2 linked regions of the Homo sapiens genome follow. The protein of the gene in region 1 purifies or fractionates together with the protein of each later gene. This does not show direct contact. Each region holds a gene or a part of one and is shown in the gene's direction. Other genes may lie near its edges.

Region 1 (3,947 bases):
GAGCCGAGGGAGTCAGACAAAACTAGGTCAAGGTTGAGTCGGGAGTTGAGAACCAGCAGATACTCCCTAGTACTGACTGAAGAGATGTGAAGTTAGGTATGAGGCAAGAAGACAGAAGATGAGGCTGAGGACAGTTTCTGAGGCACTGAATTATATACTCTGGAACCTTATCAGTTACCTGTTGTGTCCCCAGTGGGCCAGGGTGGAGTGGGGAGCCTGTTCAGGCTCACTCTGAAATTGGGCTTTAGTTATTCTGAGAGATGGGTTTCCCTTCAGGGCCCAGCATTTAAATTGTCCATACTCAGAAAATAAATACAATTAATCCTCGTGAATATCGACTTGCAGACAAATTCCTTACCTAGGAAAACAGACCAGTTCTACTTTTCATTGCATTATTTCAAAAATTAGATTTGTTCATTCTTGGATTCATCTTTGATTCTTCCTGCTCCCTCTTCCTCTCATGGTCCAAGAAGTGATGCCAAATTTATGTCCTGGAAATTCCTCAAGGCCATGTCCTCCTCTCCATTTCTCCTGCCTCTGTTTCATTTCAGCTTTCCTCATCTCTCATCCATGCTGCGTCCTTAACGCCTCACTGCAGGCAATGGTACCCTCCTACAATATACTCCATGTTGCAGCCAGAGGGACCTTCGTAAATACAAATATGATTATGTTTCTCCCCAGCTTAAAATCCTTTTGTGTTTCCCCATAGTCCACAAGGGAACGAAGAAACACCACCAACAGCGTCCACATGGCCTTCACGACATGGCCCTGTGGACACATCAGACGTTGTCTTGCAGTGCCTCATCCACACTATCTGTACCACTGCAGGCCTGGATACGTCATGGTTTTCATGGTGCTATCTTGTGCCTCTTTGCACCTGCACGCACTGTGTTTCCTACATGGGATATCTGTGTTTACAACCAAACTCCCAGGGGCCAAATTATATCCTTTGTAAAGGACTTCAAACCACCAGGCATTTGCTGGAAGTTTCACGGAGGAAAACAAGCATTTTTCATCTTTTAATCTGTTTTGCTGGTCAAAGAGGAAAAGGAGTGGATGGACAAAGTGGGGCCCAAAGTCTGGATCTAGTTCTGACCAACAAGGAGAAATTGATGCACAATGGGGAAGTGACCTTGGCATTTTCAACTGGCAGAGCCGGTAAGTTTGGGCACAGTTCAAATGTGAGTCTGTAGCCACTAGAGAGAGGGGTTTCAAAGTCATGGAGAAAAGATGGGGGTGAATCCTGCACCAAGACTTATTGAGGAGAGTTCTTGGGAACAGTTACTTTTAGGATTCCACAGGGAAATCACTGAGCGAGTTTTACAAAATACTGCTGCTGGGTTCCCTCCTCCAAGAGATCTTTACTTAATTGGTTTGGGGTGCAGAGTGGGAATGTGCATCTTTAAAAGCAGAATTCCCAAACTGGAGAGCTCTGTGAGAGCTTCCTGCAGGAGACATTATTTGAACTGAATTTTGAAAGACAAGCTTGCATGCCAGGAACCCCATGTATATGAACAGAGGATATGAAGGAATGTAAATAATTTGCTATGGCTCTAAAGAAAAGAAGGGAGAAATCAAGACGTGAAGAGGCTTACACTCCTTGCTCAATAGTTTCTAATTTATCTTTTTGGATAAGAGGATGTTATAAAGGATTTTAAACTGAGGTATAAAATAATTAGAATTGGAATGTTTACCTGAACTTCAGAGTAGGCAATAGGTTGGCATGGATCAGAACTGTAGGTAGGAAAATTAATTGTTTAGGAGAGACATGAGACATGATAGAGGTGACAGAGTATGGACAGGAGGAACACAAAAGTGATAGAAGTAACAGGACTGTTGATCATTTAGTTAAAAGAACTGCGGAGGGACACACCCAGGTTTCTGAGAGATGTCCAGTAGTACACAGGTAACATCTACGGCTCGAGACAGGTTAGAGATTTTGAAGAAATAAGTTAAAAGTTGAAACATGAACCTATGGATATAGTGGAGGTCATACAAGAAGATCATATTATAATGAAAAGAAGAGGGCTTAGAATGGTAGGAAAGGAATCAGGATACCAAGCAAAGGAGTCAGGAAAGAAGGGAAGGGTGCTCTGGAAATCCTGGGAAGGTCAAAGAAGAAAGGGCTAAATGTCGCCAACAAACAAAATGAAATAAGACCTGGGATGTATTTTTTGGCCAAGGCAATTAGAAAATGATTAGTATCCTTATCAGGAGCAATTTCAGAGAATGTTTGGGTGGACGTCTAACTACAGTGGAGTCAAACGTGAATCAACGGTGAAAAAAGGACAATAGCCAATGTGTACACTTTTTATAAAAACCACCCTCCAAGGACCAGGCACTGGCCCTCTCTCCGGTGCCCACAGACATCCACACAGGCCCAAAGAATCAGGGATTGCACAAGCCAGAGCAATCGAACGGTTCTGAGTCATCTGCCGGAAGCCTTGCCCTCAATCAAGGCGGACGTGAAGCATCTACAAAGGAGGAATAGTCAAAGCAGCAGCGGCGGCGGCGGCGGCGGCAGCAGCAGCAGCAGCAGGAGGTGGGGGCCTCTGCCAGGTACCGGGCGGGGCAGGCACGGAGGTGCCCAGGTTCCCGCGGAGGCCACCTCTTCCCTGGAGTGCGTGAGAGAGGGGAAGGGAGGAAGGCCAGAGCAGGAATCAGAGCGAGGCAAAGGCGGGCAGGAACTAGGAGAATGACGGCGGGAGGCGGCCGGGAAAGAGAGTCGCGGGGCTGTGGGGGTCGCCCTGGCACCAGCCGGGGTCCCAAGCCCCACCGCGAGACCCGGCGAAGGCCGAGGGCCGGGTCCCGAGAACAGGTGCGCCCAGACCCGCCCTGAATAGGAAGCTGCCCCTGGAGAGGGAGCGTCTGTTTCTAGGCTTGCGATTTGCTGCGCTGTGATTTGCTGCCGGATGGGAGCGGGGGGTGACGCGAGCAGTGAGTTTGGAAGCGCCGGAAGCTTGGGCGGGAGCCCCGGGAGGGCGAGTGGGAGGAGCCGCCGCTGCGGAGGAGGCTCCGGGAGTGCGGGTGGCGGGGCCTGGAATTTCCGTGGCGCCTGGGGCAGATCGGGGAGGCGCCGAGTCCCTGCTCCCCTGGCGCCCAAGCTTGCCCCTGTGCTTACAGCCTATTGGTTGCACCTTCTCCTTCCCTTCCTGTCCCCCCCCTCCGTTCTTTCCACCCCTGCCTTCATCTTTCTGTATCTTTCATATTCTCTTCTTCATTGTCTGCTTCCTCTCAAATGGGATGGGGTTGGGGGTGCTTCTTCACCTACGCCCCTCTCTGTTGCAGCCACCGGCGTTACTTTAACCAATTCCTCACTTTCCAGACACTCTCAGTCCTCTGGCTGCTGCTTCACTCCTGAGACCTCTCCATTCCAAAGGGCCTCACCCAGGGCTGCTCTCCGGGCCCCTCCCGCTTCCCTGCCTCGGGCTCTGCGTAGACCGCGCCCTCTTCCCTGGGTCCACTCGCAGGGGCAGACTCGTCTCCCCAGTTCTCCCAGCACACCCTGATGGCTGGGTCTCAGTCTCCGTTTCGCGCGCGCGCTCTCCCCTCGCCCTCCTCTGTCTCTTCCTTTTACTACCTCCAGATATTGGAAATTCCACAGAAATAGGTGGATTTCTTCCCTTGTGCCTCCACTAGATGTTCTGTGTAGTTTCATCCATTCTCATGGAACCTCTCGGAATCGGGATGCTGATGGCTCCAGGTCTCTGGCTCTAGACAGTCTACTCATCCCCGTCCCTAACTGTTTACAAACATCCTTGGCTGTCTTTGTTACAGGTTCACCTGGTATGGTGTGTTCCACGCATCTCAAATGGAACAAGTCATATTCCCCATTCCAGCCTGACTCCTCATTTAAAATTCCAGTGGTTCACGACCCACCCTGAGTATGAATTTATAACAGCTAGGCGCCTCGGGACTGGGCCCTCCTGTGCTCTGTCCCTATGTGA
Region 2 (3,600 bases), on another chromosome or scaffold:
GTAATCCAGCACTTTGGGATGCCATGGCAGATGGATCACTTGAGGCCAGGAGTTCGAGACCAGCCTGGCCAAAATGGCAAAACCTCATCTTTACTAAAAACACAAAAATTAGCCAGGTGTTGTGGTACATGCCTGTAATCCCAGCTACTTAGGAGTCTGAGGCACGAGAATCACTTGAACCCAGCAGGTGGAGGTTGCAGTGAGCCGAGATCGTGCCACTGCACTCCAGCCTGGGCCATAGAGTGAGACTCTGTCTCAAATAATAATAATAATAATAATGGCCGGGTGTGGTGGCTCACGCCTGTAATCCCAGCACTTTGGGAGGCCAAGGGGGGCAGATCACCTGAGGTCAGGAGTTCAAGACCAGCCCGGCCAACACAGTGAAACCCCGTCTCTACCAAAAATAGAAAAATTAGTCGAGCTTGGTGGTGGGCACCTGTAATCCCAGCTACTCAGGAGGCTGAGGCAGGAGAATTGCTTGAACCCGGGAGGCAGAGGTTGCAGTGAGCTGAGTTTATGCCCTTGCACTCCAGCCTGGGCAACGAGAGCGAAACTCCATCTCAAAAAAATAAATAAATAAAACAAAATAGTTTTTTAGTGGATTCCTTAAGTGTTTTCTGTATAAAAGATCAAGTCATCTGTTAATATAGTTTTAGTTCTTCCTTTCCACTACTAGGTATTTTTCTTATTTATTTGGTCTTCTTCTTTCTCCTCCCACCAGAATGTAAGCTGGTTACTGCTGTGGTTCGAGTGCCTAGAACAGGGCCTGGCACACACTGGTGCTCAGTTGTTTGATGATGAATGAATGAATAAGTGGAGCCAGCATGACTAGGCTCAAGTGATGCCCCCAGCCTAGGGCCCCCACTCCTGTGGCACCTGCCTATAGGGATTAGATCTGTCCCTTCCTCCCGTCTTCAGCCCTGACCTTTCTGCTTGTCCCCAGTCTTGGTTGCAGAGGGTTGTTGGAGCTCACCCTCCTAACAAGCTAGGTGCATTCTGGTGACATCACAGAGCCTTCACCGGGCCAGGCACTTTGCAGGATTCATTTCACTCAGTGCTCCCACAACAGCAGCCACGACAGGGGCGGTGTGCCCCAGTGAGTGTGCAGGGTGTGGCCCAGGTCTGCCTGCCCTCTTGACCCTTGTCACCGCCTTGGCAGGAGCACAGGGTAAGCCTTGGTCACATCCTCAAAGCCTTGTGGAGCCTGGAGGGGGCTCCTCATAGAAAGTGAGGCTTAGGGGCTTTCATTGGCTAAGGAAACGGGACTCCCTCATTCATGCTGTTTCCTCTCTTTGGAACTGTCTCCTCCACCTGGCTACTCCCCAGGCTCATTCTATCCTGAGCTTGAATGTCACCTTCCCTGATTCATCTGTTCCCCCGCCCTCTCCTGGTGACAATGAGTCATCACTGGGTAAATACAGTCTGCAGTGGCTCATCCCAGCACCTGCTTGGCACTCAGAGACCTGGGCGGTGCCTTGGGGCAGAGCAGGGTACTACAGGCCCCACAACACCACAGGTTCTCCTCGCCAGGCTTTCCCGGGCTCCTGAGCCAAAGTGGCGACTGAGAGCCCTGACTCTGAAGTCATACAGTCCTGGGTTTAAATCCTGCTTTGCCAATCACTGGGGATATGAGCTCGAGTGGCGGGTAGGGTGGCCTTCTTTTGGAGCTTCAGTGCCCTCAGCAGTAGAAGGGGTGGCATAGAGCCCACCTTGCAAGACTGCCATGCAAAGCAAACCTGGCGATGCTCAGGGGAGGCTTGGCTGCGGCCCTCTCCGACCCTCTGCCCTGAGGCCTCGATCTGGCAGTTAACCCACTCTCCTCGGGTCACTTCCTTAGCTGTCCCCTTGGCGGTTGTGCTTAGGTGGGATGAGCTGGAGATAACGTCTCTCACACTGTCTCCTCCCTTCCCTGGCCACCCCTTCCTGAGCACGGGCTCTGCCAGGCAGGCTGTATGGAGATGGGGAGCTGCTCGGGGATGCAGAGCTCGGTTCTGCCACGTGCCGCTGCCACCCCCAGATCCTGCCAAGGCCCCCGCAGCAGTTGGGAGGGGCTTGGATGAGCTGCTGCCACTGGCTCCCACTCACTCCCAGGGCACAAAGCATCTCTCCAGTAGAGGGGTGCTGAATTTTTCAGCATGGTCATGCTCTCCAACTCAGGAGGAACCGGGGGGCTAGAAGACCAGAGCCCTCTGCTTAGTGTTGGTGAAGCTGAAGCCCCCAGGTCGCTGTCTCCGCACCCAGAGTCCAACTGCTTGGGTTAATCCCCATTCTGCTCTTACCTGTGGTGGGCCTCAGGTGAGGGTCTTAGCCTCCGGGCCCCCAGTTTCTTTGACTGGGGATTGAGCTGATGATGTGGCTGCTCCATACAGAGGTTGGAAAGGTTTGGCATGACCACCTTTCTCTGGCACTTGGAGCAGGCTCCAGGGCCTGCTGGCTCTTGTGAAGTTCTTTGAACAGTGCCTGGCACATGGGAATCACTGTGTGGGTATCAGCTGTTGTTACTATTGTCATTGTTGTTATTAGTGATGAAGAAGGCAGCTCTGGAGTCAGGAGGAACCAGGCTTCAGGCCCAGCTCAGCTATCTACTGGCTGGGAGGTGTGGGGCAGCTTGCCTAGCCTCGGTCTCTTCATCTTTGAAATGGGCTGAGTAGTCCAGCCTAAGACTATTGTGAGGGTCATGAGGCGGTTGGCAGAGCCTGGCTTTGGAGGAGGTAATGGCAGTGCAGGGAACTGCCCAAGGTCTCAGAGCAAGGTGGCGGGAGCAGCACTGGGTACAGAGGGAGGCTCTGCAGGTTGCCAGGCTTCCTGGGGAGGGACAGCTGCCCTAGCTCACCTCACCCCTGCCTTGTGTTTGTCTCATTTTTATTACGTTTTCACTGTTGTTTTTACAACAACTACACGAGTACATTCTTGTGGTGAAAACACAGCTATTTTGTGACACAGAGTGAAAGTGGAGCTTCCCACCGCCTCAGTCCCAATGGGGAGTGCCATGTCCCTGGTACCACATGGAGTCCCCTGGCGCGGATGTGTGTGCCTGTGCTCACCTGTCGCCTCTGGCCCACAGGGAGGAGGTACAGGAGAACTGTGTGCGGTGGCGAAAGAGGTTCACCTTCGTGTGTAAGATGAGTGCTAACCCGGCCACCGGCCTGCTGGACCCCTGTGTCTTCCGTGTGTCTGTGCGCAAGGTGAGGCCAAGGGCGCATGTGGGGCTGCTGGGCTGGGCTATAGGCCCCTCCCCTCATGAGTCCGCACCCCCAGCTGAAAATGGGGTGAGTTGCTCTGCCCGTTGCCCTCCTCCCCTCAGATCTGGGGGGATTGTGGGAGATGCATGAGGTCCCTGGGATTCTGCAGTCAACTTGCTGCTTGTGTCTCCCTCCCTGTGCAGGAGCTGAAAGGCGGGAAGGCTTATTCCAAGGTAAGAGGGGCTGTGTGAAGGGGCAGTGGGATGGAATGGGGGGTGGCATGGGACAGGCACAAGGGAAGCCTCCAGCCCCTTTTCTGCCACAAGCAAGAGGCACTCAGCCCTACCTGAGATGTGTTATTTTTTAGAAATATCTTTATTGATGGTCTTTGCACTCAATATAAAGGCAGCATATGGTT

Evidence for each region.
Region 2: the proteins of SERPINB8 (region 1) and EEIG1 purify together in Homo sapiens (affinity purification with mass spectrometry; 2 studies listed by BioGRID and IntAct, with this or other methods). This does not show direct contact.

What each region holds. Positions count from the first base shown.
Region 1 is NC_000018.10:63,967,629-63,971,575, forward strand, and holds the start of SERPINB8 (serpin B8), read left to right. Parts: upstream 1-2,452; 5' UTR 2,453-2,542; exon of another isoform or gene 2,543-2,876; intron 2,877-3,947. Other genes in the region: serpin-like protein HMSD, read left to right, coding at 710-1,023. UniProt on the Homo sapiens protein: Has an important role in epithelial desmosome-mediated cell-cell adhesion.
Region 2 is NC_000009.12:127,953,390-127,956,989, reverse strand, and holds part of EEIG1 (early estrogen-induced gene 1 protein), read left to right. Parts: intron 1-3,064; coding exon 3,065-3,185; intron 3,186-3,385; coding exon 3,386-3,415; intron 3,416-3,600. UniProt on the Homo sapiens protein: Key component of TNFSF11/RANKL- and TNF-induced osteoclastogenesis pathways, thereby mediates bone resorption in pathological bone loss conditions.